Linked DNA regions of Homo sapiens: region 2 is linked to region 1. The links come from fine-mapping of genetic effects on gene expression. Tissue or cell type: pituitary. Region 1 holds a variant in brackets; the other region holds the start of a gene. All regions are shown on one strand. Distances are from middle to middle.

Region 1 (8,260 bases):
TGAGAGGGGGTCCTGAGATTTTTGCTAGAACTCTTGGAAAAGAAGCATTTTCTTTCTCTGTCAGGATTGTAGAATAACTGTAGGTGGATGTTCAGTATATTAGATTATTTGTTTGTTTGCCTGTTTGTTTATATGCATTGAGTAAAATCAGAAAGAAGTATCTTAAAATATTGACATCAATGAATTTTTGGTGGTGGGATAATGATGACATTTATGGTTTTTGTACATTTACATATTATTTATATTTTCTACAAATTTATTATATTTATATTAAAATATATTTTTTTCTTTCTTTTATTTTTCTGAGACAGAGTCTCATTCTGTCACCCAGGCTGGAGTACAGTGGTGTGATCTCAGCTCACTGCAGCCTCTGCCTCCCAGGTTCAAGTGATTCTCATGCCTCAGCCTCCGGAGTAGCTGGGATTACAGGTGTGCACCTCCACACTTGGCTATTTTTTTTGTGTTTTTAATAGAGATGGGGTTTTGCCATGTTGGCCAGGCTGGTCTCTAACTCCTAGCCTCAAGTGATCCACCTGCCTAAGCCTCCCAAAGTGCTGGGATTACAGGCATGAGCCACCAAGCCCTGGCAGATTTTTTTTTTTTTTTTTTTTTTTTTTGATACAGACTCTCACTCTGTTACCCAGGCTGGAGTGAAGTGGTGCGATCTCAGGTCACTGCAGCCTCCACCTCCCAGGTTCAAGTGATTCTCCTGCCTCAGCCTCCCAGGTAGTGGGGATTACAAGTGTGTGCCACCACTCCTGGCTAAATTTTGCATTTTTAGTAGAGACGGGGTTTCACCACATTAGCTAGTCTGGTCTCGAACTCCTGGCCTCACGTGATCCACCCACTTTGGCCTCCCAGGGTGCTGGGATTACAGGCATGAGCCACTGCCCAAAATGGATTTTGATGTTATAAATTATTATTTTAAAACTATTTTAGGCTGGGCGCTGTGGCTCACGCCTGTAATCCCAGCACTTTGGGAGGCCGAGGTGGGTGGATCACCTGAGGTCAGGAGTTCGAGACCAGCCTGACCAACATAGTGAAACCCCATCTCTACTAAAAATACAAAATTAGCCAGGCGTGGTGGCGCATGCCTGTAATCCCAGCTACTTGGGAGGCTGAGGCAGGAGAATCACTTGAATCCGGGAGGCGGAGGTTGCAGTGAACGAAGATGGCGCCATTGCACTCCAGCCTGGGCAATAAGAGCAAAACTTAGTCTCAAAAAAAAAAGTTATAATACATTATAAAACAATATACATATGTACCATAATATATGTTTATGTTTATAATTTTATATAAATAATAGATTCATGTAATTTTTACATTAATATAGAACAGAAGTGCTTTAAGCCCCAAATGCCCATTTATTCCTTCCCTTGGTTCCAGTTTTAAACCCAACTCCTGAAACCTGGCGGGACCTGCATCCTGAATCCCAGGTTAATCCAGTTTCCTATAAAAACTTTTTCAAAAGAAAGCATTTTACCTTTTCAAAGTCAGGTAGTTAGCAAAAAGAGACATTTCAAAGTAAAACATTTAGGAACTAAGAGGTTACACTGGCGCCCCGTTAGACCTCAGTCCTCCTTTTAGCACAGAGGGTGGAAAGATGCGTGGGGCTCTGTTCTCAGGATGGGCTCTGACTCCAGGCCGGCTGTGGCAGGGGGACCAGGGGTGGCCGTGCCTCTTTGACCTGACTTTGTAGTCCTTTTAGGAAGAGCTCAGTGGGTTGTTGAACTGGCGTGGATGCCCTTGGTAGCCCTGCCAGAGAGAGGAATAGGACACAACCCCCACCCATCCTCCTGTCACCTGCCTTCACACTCACAGTCCCTTCAGTCACCAAACGGGAACAGCACAGCTCGGCCCTGCCTGGGTTTCCTCTCCCCTTGTTTGCAAGGACTCCTGAGAATTCACACACATCCTGGGTGTCCTCCCTGCCAGTCACCAGCTCAATCCTGCTGGTGCCCACTGCAGAAACAGACCCCTCTCTTTTTTTTTTTTTTTTTTTTTTTGAGATGAAGTCTTACTCTGTCACCCAGGCTGGAGTGCAGTGGCGCCATCTCAGCTCACTGCTATCTCCACCTCCTGGGTTAAAGCGATTCTTCTGCCTCAGTCTCCCGAGTAGCTAGGATTACAGGCTCCTGCCACCACACTCAGCTAATTTTTTTGTATTTTTAGTAGAGACAGGGTTTCACCATGTTGGCCAGGCTGGTCTCGAACTCCTGACCTCAAGCGATCCGCCCGTCTCGGCCTTCCAAATTGTTGGGATTATAGGTGTGAGCCACCATGCCCAGCCCAAGCCCCTCTCTTAAGTTCTCCAAGCACAGCTTTAACAAAACTCCCCATAACCTCTGCAGAGATGCCATTCTCTCTCAAAGAAAGCCACATTTTACAGTGACTAAGAGGAGCCTGTGGCCTCACGTTGTCCTGCATTGCACTGTCTCCTTTCCAGAAAAGGTTCACGTTTTATCCTTGCATAACCCAAAGACCTATTAAAATCTTTTCCTAAAAACAAAAGGGATTATTCCCACAAGAGCAAGTTGCTTCCACCTCCACCGGAGACAAAGAAATTGGAATCAAAACCCCAAGCCCATGTGGCTCAGAATAGCAGTTTGCTCTTTTTTTCTTGCCATTGCTTTTTTCAAAAATAGCGGAGGCCATTTTTTGCACACCACATTCTATACCTGTTTGGAAACCAAAGGCTGAGTCTGAAAGAGGGTCAGGGACTGGGCTGGGAAGGGAAGGCTGCAGGAGAGACTCAGGAAGAGGGAGTGAGGTCAATGAACACAGCAACCGCCAGTTTTTCCAAGACTGAGACCTTTTATCGTGGAGTCAGATGTGGGGAGAGGGGGCCAGGCGTCAGCTAGCTGTGGGATCACGGGCAAGTCTTGGAGGTGCCTCTTCCAGCTTCAAATCTCTGTGTACTTTGGGGAGGCAGGGGGTTTGCTTCCCAGGTGCAGGCTTGCACCTGCCTCTTTCTGGATTGCATCAGAGCTGCTCAGGACTCATTTCCCCACCCCCACAGGCGCCTACAGCTCCCTCCCCCTCCCATAACTTATTAGCTACAGATAACATCCCTTTGTTCTCCCAGTGACTCCACACCCACAGAAGGAGAGGGGGATGAAGAAATCTGCCAGGAGGGTGCCTCCCGCCAGTATCTGATGAAGGTAAGAGGTAAGAGGCTGCCCGTTTACTGCTTGTGCCTTCCAGGGAAGCTTCTTCCCCAGGGCCACTACCCGTTTCGGGAGGCGTTTCTGGGCTAGGCTTCCTGGCAGGGGAGGCTCTCAGGCACTGGGGCCGCTGAGGGTATGTGGTGAAGCGCTTGGCTTGGAAATCTTTGCCTTAGGGACTCATTAAGAATTTTTTCAGGGAATCCTCGTCGGGTGTCTTCCAATGGCTTCCCACCAGGTTACAGTCAGGCCGAAACTTCTTTTTTTTTTTTTGAGATGGAGTCTCGCTCTGTCGCCCAGGCTGGAGTGCAGTGGCGCGATCTCGGCTCACTGCAAGCTCCGCCTCCCAGGTTCACAGCATTCTCCTGCCTCAGCCACCCGCGTGCCCGGCATGGCCCAAACTTCTTAGCCTTTTTTGCCAGTCCTTTTCCCAGACCCACTGAGCTCCAGTTACATAGAACCACGTGCGATTTCCTTGAAAATATTATGCATTTTCATGCTTCCGTGACTACTTTGCATATGCTGTTTCCTTTGCCTGGAGTGCCCCCTACCACTTCTCTTCTTAAAGAACTCCTATTCATCCTTCAAGACCCTACTCAAAAGTCAGGTTCTTTTTCAAAGCCTTGCTTGACTTCTCAGACAGGGTGGGATGCTCTGTGCTCTAGGCACAGGGTTCCTTCCCTGGCTCATCTGGGATTAGGGTAATTATTAGAATTTACATGTTTATCTTCCTTCTAGTTGTTCCTCCAGGGCAGGGACTGTCATTCACCTTTGCAAATGTGGTGTACAGCACAGTGCCAGGCCCTCGTAATTCCTCAGCCAGTATTTGTGGCAGGATAAACACAATTTCTTCTGGATTTATTGTAATTTTGAGTAGCATTAAGAGAATGCTTTTGTCTCTGTGGACATTCCCTGGCCTCCAGTGGCATCTCTCCAGACAAAGGTCACATATTTGTGAATCTGTATATTCACACAGCATCAGCATGTCACTTCTCAGGTATTTTACATCTGATTTATTTATTTTACACATTAACCCTATGGGTGGTTGTTATTGTTGCCATCATAAAATAAAGAGATCGAGATGCTAAGAGATTAAGTACCATGTTCAAGGTATCAGCACTTGGATGGCAGAGCTGGGACCTGAAACCAGGTATTCTGGCTGCAAAATCTTTTATCTACATCTGAGTTTCTGAGTAAGTGGTCTTTGAATCAGTAGGTCAGCGTCCCCTGGGGACTTGTTAGACAACCCAAAACTCCAAGGGTGGGGCCCAGCAATCTGTTTCAACCAGCCCTGCAGGTCATTCTATCCTCAAGTTAACACTGGCCTGTGCCACAGCTGCTCCAGTAGCTGTCCACAGCCATGGGAGGGCGCTCCAAGGCCGACTTTCACCACTGGGAACCTGTCAGGCACAGCAGAAGGCAAGAAAATGCATGAACTGGGAATTAGGCGGCAGAGTTCTAGTCCTGCCAGTTCTGCAATTATTGGTTGAGTGATTTGGAGCACATTATTTAATGTTTAACCTCCCTGGGCCTCAGTTTTCTCATCTGTAAAATGAGGATGATGACTAAATGTTCTCATCTCTAATTTCCCTTTAAATTCTGTTATTCAGCTCTCCTTTGGAGTAATATGTTGTCTGTGCCAAGGATGGAATGAAAACAGAGTATGATGGCTCATCTTGACTTTTTCCTTACTTACAAATGGAGAGCCCCAAAGTCCAAATCCTTGGACCAGCTATCCCCCAACTTCCTCCTTAGGGGCAGAAGGTGAGAGCAAGCAAACATTTGAGTTGATTCATGAAACTTTACTGGGCAAAGAATAGAAAATGTTGGTTTGGACCCTCCTTCACTATCTGGGGCCCCTCCACATGAGCTCCTTCACCGAT[C/G]CGTCTCCTTCAGCTGCTTCCCCACTGTGACTCTACCAGCCCCTCTCTATCCCCCCTTCAAGCCTGAGCACTTTCCCTGCACCCCCACCTGGAGTTGCCCAATTCACATGCTCTTGTTTATTCACTGCTCTTCTGAGGAAGGGTGGGGTTGGTGTCAGGGTGACTTACTAGGTTTGACAGGGGCTTGGTGGCCTCATGGGGAGCCCCTCAGACGCTGGCTTCACATGGCCCCTCCTGCTGGCTTCACATGGACCCAACGGCCCTCCCTGGAGCCCACCTCACAGTGGATGGGACTGTACCTACTGGGCACTGGTGGGGCCCAGCATTCAGCTGACGGCTGAAAAAACCTCCGGTCTACATTGGGCTAAAAGGGAGGAAGAATGTTTCTTGCCCTTTTGAGATGTTTGCAAAAATCCCCAAAAAGCAATTGTGTTGTCAGAGTACAGCCTTGAATCAGAAAGGTGGTTAGAAGAATTTTAATCACCCAGGAGCTTGGCATCAACATAAGAACATGGCTGATACTCAAGTCCAGAGAGACTAGGAGAACTGGGGAGTTTCAGAAGTTGGTCAAAGAACGTGTTGCCTTTGGCAAAACCACACGTGTCAAACAATCCGAGTGTCTAATCAATCTGTATCGCTCTCAGAGAGACTTTCAGCACAAGGTTTCAGAAGCCAGGAAAAGCCTAATAATGTAGGACATCAGGTGTCCCCAGCAACCCTGGGGTGAAAAGCCAAAGAAGGTGGTTCTTAAACAAGGGCTTGGCCAGGCCCAGTGGCTCACACCTGTAATCCCAGCACTTTGGGAGGCCAAGACGGGCAGATCATGAGGTCATGAGATCGAGACCATCCTGGCTAAAACGGTGAAACCCCGTCTCTACTAAAAATACAAAAAATTAGGTGGGCATGGTGGCGGGCGCCTGTAGTCCCAGCTACTCGGGAGGCTGAGGCAGGAGAATGGTGTGAACCCGGGAGGCGGAGCTTGCAGTGAGCCGAGATCGCGCCATTGCACTCCAGCCTGGGTGACAGAGCGAGACTCCGTCTCAAAACAAACAAACAAACAAACAACAAGGGCTCTGGGAAGACCGGAAGCCAATGTCGACTCCTCCTCAGTTGAAGGTCACCGAGGCTGCATTTCTCAGCTGCAAGTGACCAGGGAAGCTGACCACCCCTTAGATGATCAGTGGAACAACATGTTGATAAGAATATGTGTGTAAAGTTGTGTGCAGTTACGGTTTCTGTGCCTTTTAAATCAATACACATTGTCTCAACCTAGTACCCTGGAGTCCCATGTCAACACCTTCTGCTGATGGCTGCTTTCTTGACCCATTCTGAGCACCCCAAAGTGGGCCTGGTAATTGAGTTCAACCGGGAACCTGCTGACCTGCCTCAGCAGTCTTGGAACTTCCCAGGATCCCAGGGGGCTTGGAAGCCTGGGGACCACCCAGGCGTGGATTAGGATTCCTGGACTGCTCCAGCATGGGCCCCTCTCCCTCCCCACAGTCAGCACCTGTCCCATCTCAGCCTGAAATTGGCCTGCTTTCCTCCAAGACTTGGATCGAAAGACTCTTCTGCACATGTTCAAAATGTATTTCAACTCCTTAGAGTCTCCTAAGCCTCCCATTGCCAAGCCCCTGTGACTTCACAGACACTGAGCACTCATCTCTGGTGCTGTCTTCTACCCAAAGAGTGGCCACATCTGAACATGCTGGTCCTTTAGCTCTCTGTTGTGCAGGAGTGAGGAGACACGGGCTGTAGTCTCAGCATGCTGATGCAGTCTAGCTGTGGGCCCTTCGGCAGGTCACTTTACTTCTCTGGGCCTCAGTTTTATCATGTGTAAAATGAGAATGTTGCTTTAGATGCCCTCTGAGATCTTCCAACTCTAACATTCTGAGATTCTGGGGGCCGCCCTGGCCGAAACAGGTTCAGAGGTGCTGCACATCACCCCACACATAGCCATGAGGACATAGGAGAGAGTCCATGTAGTGTCAGGACAGTGGGGAAGACCCTGGGGCAGATGAATACTTTTCTTTCATGGACTTCGATTTGAGGAGAGCCTGTTGGGTGGGTCCTGGCTGGAAAGAGTGAAACAGCCTCCCTCAGACTCCCCCTGTGCTTGAGTGGTTGCCTCACAGGCTGTCACTTAACCCTCCTCACCACTTCCCAGGGTGGGAAAGGGAAGGGCAGACGGGGAACAGCTGATGAAATAGGCAGACACAAGCGTGTGTTCCTCAAAGACAAAGCCAAGGTCAACAGAGCTGGGCCAACTTGGGCTGCAGCTGCAGGCCCTGCTCTTTGCAGAGTTTCAGCTTCCTCTTCTTGACTCTCTCCTAATAATTTAAATGGGGTTCTTTCTCAGAGCACCAGAGCCAATGGTTGATACTTTGTGTTAGAATTTACCCACAACTATCCACTTGTGTTGCTCTTTAACCTGAAGCCAAAGAGAATGTCCTTGGCTGCTGGGAATGTGTGCAGTGAGGGCACCCAGGAGTGGGATGGTTGTTCTGAGCCTGTGCTCCCACCAGACCATACTTTCTGTGTGCTCTTCCAGGAGGAAATGGATCCAGCCAGAAGGATCAGAGAGTGTCAGAAGATCTGGAAACTTCCTCCGTAGGGCCAAAGCCTCAAAATATGCCATTCTATTCTGGGGAATGCCATTTCTATTCAGGGCTCCATCCATCAAATGGAAATGGGACTCTAGGCTACTTTCCCATCTCCCAGGAATTTGGATGCCTAGAACACAACAATTCTTTTAATCTTCTAAGTTAAAAAAAAAAAATTCGGGGACAGGTGCAGTGGTTCACTCTTGTAATCCCAGCAGTTTGGGAGGCCGAGGTGGGCAGATCACTTGAGGCTAGGAGTTGAAGGCCAGCCTGGGCAACATAGTAAGACCCTATCTCTCAAAAAAAAAAAAAAAACAAAAAAAACAACAGTTGGGTGTGGTGTTTCATGCCTGTAGTCCCGGTTACTTGGGAGGCTGAGGTGGGAGGATCATCTGAGCCCAGGGAGATTGAGGCTGCATGCAGTGAGCCATCATTGCACCACTGCACTCCAGCCTGGGCAACAGAGTGAGACCCAGCCAAAAAAAAAAAAAAAAAAAGATTCTATAAGGGGGAAAAAGACAAGGCGTATCAAGTCCTTGACAATAAGAAAATTGCTAAATATTGCACTCAAACTAGCTTAATAATGAACAACTATACCTTCATCATAAGTTGC
Region 2 (8,000 bases), 560 kb after region 1:
ATAGGCGCACACCACCACACCTGGCTATTTTTTATATTTTTAGTAGAGATGGGGTTTTGCCATATTGGCCAGGCTGGTCTCAAACTCCTGACCTCAAGTGATCCACCTGCCTTGGCCTCCCAAAGTGCTGGGCTTACAGGCATGAGCCACCACACCTGGCCTTAATTGGAGTATTTCATTTATTTATACATTTAATATAAATAATAAGCTTACTGGGTTTAAGCCCTACAGTCTTTCTATTCATATTTTTGGTTTGGGTTTTTTTTTTTTATTCCTTTGTCCTTTTCTTCCTGTATTCTTTCAGTTTATTAAAGTATTTTTTAGTTTACCATTTTCTCTTCTGTTGGTGTGTTAGCTATATTTCTTTGTATATTTTAGTCATTTATACACTAAAAATACACCGTTAACTTATCACAGCCTACCGTGAATTAATATTATAATGCTTCCTGTATAAACAGTGTAATTATCTGTGTACCTTCTATTTATCTTTGTGCTGTCATATTCACACACTTTCAGTCTTCGTATTTTATGAATTCCACAATACATTGTTATTACTTTGGCTTTTAATAGTCAACTAACTTTTAAAGAATTCAAGAAAAAAAGAAAAATTACCTTCCATCTTATTCTGTAGTTTTTCAATAAATGTAATAAATAATCATTTCCTCTAAAAAAAAAACCTATTTAAAATTACTTCCTCCAAATAAGCCATCAGAGTGACCATATCCAGCCTATAGGCAGAGGACATTGAAATTGGCAGTCATCAAGAAAAGAAAATGATATCTACATGACATCCAGGTGCCTCTGTCTGCCCTGTGGACTTCATTCACAGTGGCCCCTCACACACTTTTATGGGATCATCAGCTGCAGCCCTTCAAGGGTTATAATGCAGAAATTCTTAGTAGGCCTCATACAGATTATAAAAACTGAGGCTCAGAGTGATTAATTGACTTTGCCGAGGGCACACAGCTGGCTTCTAGAGGAGTGAGGGCTCAACATAGGTCCTCATTTTCACATTATGGCACCAAAAGTGAAAAAAGTTCTTGCCCCTCCCAAAGCTGAAGCCAAAGCGAATGCTTTGAAGGCCAGGAAGGCAGTGCTTAAAGGTGTCCACAGCCACAAAAAGAAGATCCAATCCACACATCACCCACCTGCCAGTGGCCCAAGACAGTGTGGCTCTGCAGGCAGCAGAAATATGCTTGGAAGAGCACTCCCAGGAGAAACAAGCTTGACCAATAATTCATCATCAGGTTCCCCCAACCACTGAGTCAGCCATGAAGAAGATAGAAGACAACAACACAACTTGTGTCCATTGTGGATGTCAAAGCCAACAAGCACCAGATCAAACAGGCTGTGAAGAAGCTCAGTGACACTGCTGTGGCCAAAGCCAACACCCTGATCAGGCCTGATGGAGAGAAGAAGGCATATTGGGATCATCTAAACTGAATCCAGCTAGTTGATTCTATGTATATGTCTTTTCACCATTTAAAACCAAAACAAAAGCATAGGTCCTCTGACCCTTCTGCACATCCACACCCAGGCAGACAGAAACAGTTCCATACTCTTTTCACCATGTGTCTGAGGCTCTCTTCTCATACAGAGAGGAAATGCATGAGGCAATGAAGAGCACTGACCATAAAGTCAAGACATAGCTGGGTTTAAACCTGTCTCTGCCACTCACAGGCTATGTGACTTTGGGCAAATTCCTAATTTCCCTGGGTCTTTGTTTCCTTGTCTATAAAATGGTGAAGCCTACTTGAGAGGGTTATGATGGGTATCACATGGGGTGTATGATTTTCTGTGTTGCTAATTTTAAAAATATCATAAGTTAACCCTTTTAAAACGCCACTAATTATTAATCTCACAGTTTCTGTGGGTTAGGAGTCCCACTCAAGATGCCTGGGTTCTCAGTTCGGGGTTTTAGGCAACTAAAATCAAGGCTTTGTCTGGGTCTATGATCTCACCCCTGAGGCTTATGCTCCTCCTTCAAGCTCTTTCAGTATGTTGGCAGAGTTCAGTTCCTTGTGGTTGTAGGACTGAGGCCCCTGTTACCTTGCCGCTGTCAACTGGAGACCACCCTCAGCAACTAGAGGCTGCGTGCGTCCTCTGCCATGTGGTCCCCTCCATTTTCAAGCCAGTAGTGGTGCGTCAGATCCCTCTTATATTTTGAATCTCTGCCTTCCATATGTCTTCTGCTAGTCACAGATTTAAAGCCTCCCTGTCTTAAAGTCATCTGTGCCATATAACAAAACCTGTTTACCAGAATGAAATCCATCACATTCACAATCCTGGGGATTACACAGAAGGTGGAGAATCTTGGGGGTCACGTTAGAATTCTGCCTACTACGTGGGATAATGTCAGTGAATTGTCCAGCATAAGGTCTGGCATATGGTAAGAATTTGATCATTTTTAGCTATCAGCAGCAACATCCCTAGAGAAAAAGAGGAGATTTTTAAATTAAAAGCAGAGTCAATATTGATACCATCATATGTACCCCAGTAAACAGTCCCTTAACCTCGGTAACTTGGCTAGAGTTCCCAAAGTTTAAGGCCACCCCATTAATGGACTGTCATCCCCTGTGGTTGTATCTTCTTGGTACCAGCACAACCAGCTGAACCAACCTCATCTCAGCTGAACTCCCCACAAGAGAGATGAGGGAGTTTTCCAGGCCCAGGCCAACATAGCTCGGGTGATCAGAGCCCCCGAGAAGACAATAAAGTCAGTGCTGGTGAGCGACACAGGAATTGGGGACTGAGGTCACCAAGGCCTTCCATTCCGCACGAGCAAGCTCACCCGTCCCTCCTGGGCCTTTTCCTTATGGGGTTTAGAAGTAGAGCTGTGAAGAGAAAAGCAAATCATATAAATAACGTGGAATTATTGGATCCTTGAACCCTTTTGAAAAGTATCTTAAAGGGATTTGGTTTGTTTTTCCTTACAGAAGAGAGAGCAACAGAGATGGGGAGGAATCCAGCTCTGCCTGACATCCAGGCATCCTCTCCAAATTGCATAGGTCAGTGAGAACGTGTTATTTATTAGAACCTGACATCTGTTGCAGTGAAATGATAAGCTCCATTGAAAAGCCTGGCCATCAATTACTGCCAATACAGCCCTCATCCCAGAGGAAGCCACTCACCATCCTCTCAGCCTGTGCAGACCAGGCTGCACCAGGCACGGAGTGTTTACAGCCCAGCTCAGTCTCCTGGCTCCCCTGGGGGAGGGGCAGCAGGTAAATCCCTTCTGCAGGTCCCCTCAGGCCATCTCTCCCCAGGCCCTCCATCTGTATTCCTTTGGTTCCACTGGAAGCTTCTCTGAGAGCAGTTTTAAAGACTGCACCCCCTGTTTATCCTGCTTTCTCAGTGGAAAACAGTTAGGGCTTTTGTTCTGGCCTCAGTCACACAAGCCAGAAGAAGCTGCACTGAACTCAGCTTATCAGGATAGTCACACAGAAAGAGTAACTGGGCTGGGCGTGGTGGCTCACACCTGTAATCCCAGCACTTTGGGAGGCCGAGGCAGGTGGATCACCTGAGGTCAGGAATTCAAGACCAACCTGGGAAACATGGTGAAACCCTGTCTCTACTAAAAATACAAAAATTAGCCAGGCATGATGGCGGGCGTCTGTAATCCCAGCTACTTAGGAGACTGAGGCAGGAGGATCACTTGAACCGGGGAGGCAGAGGTTGCAGTGAGCCAAGATCGTGCCACTGCACTCCTGCCAGGGTGACAGAGCAAGACCCCGTCTCAAAAATAAAAATAAAGAAAAAAAGAGTAACTGGAAGGTCAGCACATCTTTGTCAGGAAAATTAACTCAGGTGTGCCCTTTCAAGAACAATTGAGTGGGCTGGGCGCGGTGGCTCACGCCTGTAATCCCAGCACTTTGGGAGGCCGAGGCAGGCGGATCACAAGGTCAGGAGATCAAGACCATCCTGGCTAACATGGTGAAACCCTGCCTCTACTAAAAATACAAAAAATTAGCCGAGTGTGGTGGTGGGCACCTGTAGTCCCAGGTACTTGGGAGGCTGAGGCAGGAGAATGGCGTGAACCCGGGAGGCGGAGCTTGCAGTGAGCCGAGATCGCGCCACTGCACTCCAGCCTAGGCGACAGAATGAGACCCTGTCTCAAAAAAAAAAAAAAAAAAAGAACAATCGAGTGTTCAAGCTTGGGTTCCAATTACCCCGCCAGCCACTGGGGAAGTGTTTGGGATCACCAAGGAGAGCAACTTCCTTGCTTGTGAGTTAGGGTCACGTATTCTCTTTCCTGGAAAAATAGACAGGTGTCCTATAGAGTTAGAAAGGAAAGGGTAGAGGAGCTGGTTTGGGATTTTTATGATAAACCATAGTAGGAACATATGCTATTAATGGAATCAGAGTTCCTTTTGAACAGCTGGGGGAAGAAACGTACAGTAAGTCAAGAAAAAGCAAAGGATAGTGGCCTGGGAGTCAAGTGACCTGGGTCTCATCTAGGGACCATTATTAATTTCCTTCGTGATCATGGAAAAGACACGTCACCTTTCTGGACTTCAGTACCTTCCTCTGAAAGTACTGGGCTAGTACCCACCTGGTAATCACTAAGCTCTAATATATTTCTGGAATTTTAAGTGAAAATTGTTTAAGGTAGCTGAGCATACTTTTTTATTCATGTTGAGAAACTTCCATCTCTGTTGCCGGAGGTCAGACACAAATTGAAAACATTACTAAATGGAATTAAGTACACCGTGTACGTGATGCCTTTTTGTACAGCTCGTATCTGATATTTATAGAACACTTCAGTTGCAGAACGTGCACACATATGCCCTGAACACACACCCAATAAAATAATTCTAGATGCAATACATTTTCAGATGTCAAGTTAAAACAGCTTCTTAGGAATTAGGCTTGACTGTTCAGATGTGTGTGTTAGTTTATGACAGGTGCCGCCAGGGCTGCTCAGGGCTGTCATGAGTGATGTGGAGTCCAGCCAAGGCAGGAGGGCCAAGCCGCTTGTTTCTATCACTTCTCATTAAGGCATGAATTCTAGAAAAAAGGGAAGCATCAAAGAACCATCAGGATTGTCCATTGTGTGCATATCATAATGACAAGCAGAGGCCTTGCTTCTGCAGAAACAAGATTCTGTCTTGTCTTTTGTCAGATCATTCAGCACAAGGGCCACCTGTGAAAATGAACTAGATTCATGCCTTATTAAAGTAGAGGATTTACAGAGGTGAGCAAAAATGGGAAGCAGGTACCATCCAGCTCATTATATACAGAGTATGTACAAAGCACTGGAGACTACCACACACACGTATTTTGAAGAGCCCCAACTCAAAGCCTACTGATTGATTTCTGGAATGGTCTGTCACTCCTTGAGATTCCATTCTGACAATGAGGCTATCTATGGCATTAACTACTCAGAAGACTGAGTACAACTCAGAATTACAAAGCAGGAAGTTACGTAGTTCTTCTAAAAATCAAAACCAAAATTTAGAAAACTCACTGGGGCAGTTACCTCTACTCCACTGTCCTGCAAAATCCACAACCAACAGCAGAGATAAGTTGGGTGACTAAGTAGGAATGCATCCTGGGAAGTTAAGTGTGACAGTGGGGGCCAGTCACAGAACATGGAACATGGAAGGAACTTTAGAGATCATCTAGTACTGCCAGGTCTAAATATGGTAAGCATTAACTATTGTGATAGACATTCAATGAAATAATCGATATAGACCTTTAAGCACAGTGATTGGCATAGAGTTGACTTTCAGTTCATCATTTTCATTTCCTAGAAGAATTTGTGCAAGGCATACAGTATCAAGATTAGAACCCTATGCCCCTGATTACTGGTCCAAAGCCCAGCCCAAGCCACCTCTGACCTCCTACGTTTCCCCTCTTTCCTGCTCCCTTGCTCACAGGAGCAGCACAGAATCATCAAGGGCAGGAGTTTAGCCTGCACCACGTACACATCCACCTACCCGTGGAGTGGCCTGGCATGGGTGCCTTCTTCCTAGTGGCTCACCCAGGAGGCTGAAGGCCTCTGTGCCCATGGGGAAAACCCAGGGTGTTTGTGAGCAGAAATAACCCTGCTGAGAGTCTAAAAACCAAGTACTTTTAAGAGAAGGTAACATGCTTCTGTGGCCAAACTTATTACTAGCGTCTATGGGCAAAAGAGAAGAAGGAGTATTGTAATGGAATGCGCCAAAGGAAAGACATCACTTTACTGCTATCTCCAAAGCAGCAGGGAGGCTGCACATTGAGAAGAGGATAGAAAATTCCAGTGACTCCTATTTTCCCAGACAGACAGAACCTCTGGCACTTAGTCATGCCTAATGGAAAATCGAAGCCAAGAAAGCAGAAATGGGGTGGGGGTGAGCTAGGGTAGTCTGTAATCCAAAGTCACTTCTGAGGAAAAAAAGTAGTTTGTTTGTCTCCTTGTGTGCCATGAGTGGGCAGGGCTGAGTTGCCAGGTAGCGGGGCCTTGACACTCGGAAGAACAGCCTTTAGAGCAGCCATGATTGTGAGAATTGGGCAGAACAGTGGTTTCCTAGTTGATCCAGAAGCAACTAGTAAGCCTACAGTCTGTGTGTAGCTGCAGTTAAGTTACTGCTAAATCTCTTCAGCAAACGTGTAAGAGCTCACTATATGCAGAATATGTACAAAGCACTGAAGACTAACACACACACATTTTGAAGAGCACCAACTCAAAGCCTACTGATTGATTTCTGGAATGGTCCATCGCTGCTTGAGATTACATTCTGACAGTGAGGCTGTCCACGGCATTAACTACTCAGCAGACTGAGTACAGTCCGAATTGCAAAGCAGGAAGCTATGTAGTTCTTCTAACAATCAAAATCAAAATGTAGAAAACCCCAGTTTTGCATTATTGATCATTTGGGAGACTGGATAATCCTTAAACTGTCATTATTCCAGGTATCCAGAAAAGTGAGCATTACAGGAACGTGCATATAAGGGCAAGATCACGTATTTTCTCAGAATAAACAATGGGTCACCCAGTGCCTCCTAATCACCTTACAGACAATAAGAATTGTAAAATGTATTGAATAATTATAGTACACCAGCATAGCTCTAAGTGCTTTATGTTTTTTAATTTCTGTAATTCTCGTAACAACCTTATGAGCTAGGTACTGCTATTACACCTATTTTACGGGTTATGAAATTGAGACCCTGCAAAAGGAAGGGACGTATTCAAGGTCACAGAGTCACTTAGTGTAGGAACTGAGCATATACCTTGGCTTTCCCAACTTTTAGATTGGTTTCATACTGCACCACCTCTTTTCCTCAGATTAAGGTCTGAGTTATCCCAAATTCACCAGGCAGCTGAGCTCAGCTCTCTGTTTAGAACTGCAGGGTCTAGGCTGTTTGCCTTGGTTGACACTCAGGTTTGGCATGCCCCAGTGTGGATTTGTAGTGGCTAACATTTAATTAGATTTTGCCCAGATCACTAGCCTAGATCACTTTTCCCATTCATTCATTCAGCAGATGTTTATTGAATTCAAACTAGGTGTTAGGTACGATGTTAAGTGATGTGTAAGATACAGTCCCTGCTTTCGGTGAACTAGAGGAGGGATGAGAATTGCACATAGATTCTTCTCTTTAAGGTGGCAACGTGCAGGGAAAGAGCACTAGGAGTCGAGGAAAGAAGATTATGTCTGTTTACTGGGACCCAGGAAGCTGAAATTGGAGGCTGGGTAGGATTTGATGTGCAGAGAGGGGAGGACACTCCTCCAGAGGAAACAGAGTGCACAAAGGCCCAGAAGATGGGAAGCATGGGGGTTCCAGGAGGTATGCCGGTGTCCACTGAAGACAAGAGCAGTAGATAAGGCAGGAAAGAAAAGAAAAGAGAAAAGAAGGAAGGTGGGGAGGGAGGGAAAAGAAAGAAAGGAAAGAGAGAAGGAGAGAGAGAGAAGAAAGAAAGGGAAGGGGAGGGGAGGGGAAAGGGGGGAGGGAAGGAAGGAAGGAGAGGAGAGGGGAGAGGAGGGGAAAAGGGGAAGGGAAGGGAGAGAAGGAGAGGGGAG

The links. PIP is the estimated chance that this variant, and not a neighbour inherited with it, causes the effect.
Region 2: it holds the start of BABAM2-AS2, and the variant in region 1 is fine-mapped to the expression of BABAM2-AS2 in pituitary (GTEx, PIP above 0.99).

What each region holds. Positions count from the first base shown.
Region 1 is chr2:27,749,787-27,758,046 of GRCh38, forward strand. No RefSeq gene overlaps it. Among named protein-coding and RNA genes, the nearest start is that of MRPL33, 18 kb to the right of the region's middle. RefSeq lists an enhancer at 2,834-3,452. The variant C/G (reference allele first, on the strand shown) is at 5,048.
Region 2 is chr2:28,307,146-28,315,145 of GRCh38, forward strand. It overlaps BABAM2-AS2 (BABAM2 antisense RNA 2), which reads right to left and starts at 3,314. Exons shown (of 3, transcript NR_038319.1): 1 at 3,132-3,314; 2 at 2,792-2,834; 3 at 546-2,429. All of the region lies in intron 11 of BABAM2 (BRISC and BRCA1 A complex member 2), which reads left to right. It also overlaps the pseudogene RPL23AP34. RefSeq lists an enhancer at 2,018-3,217.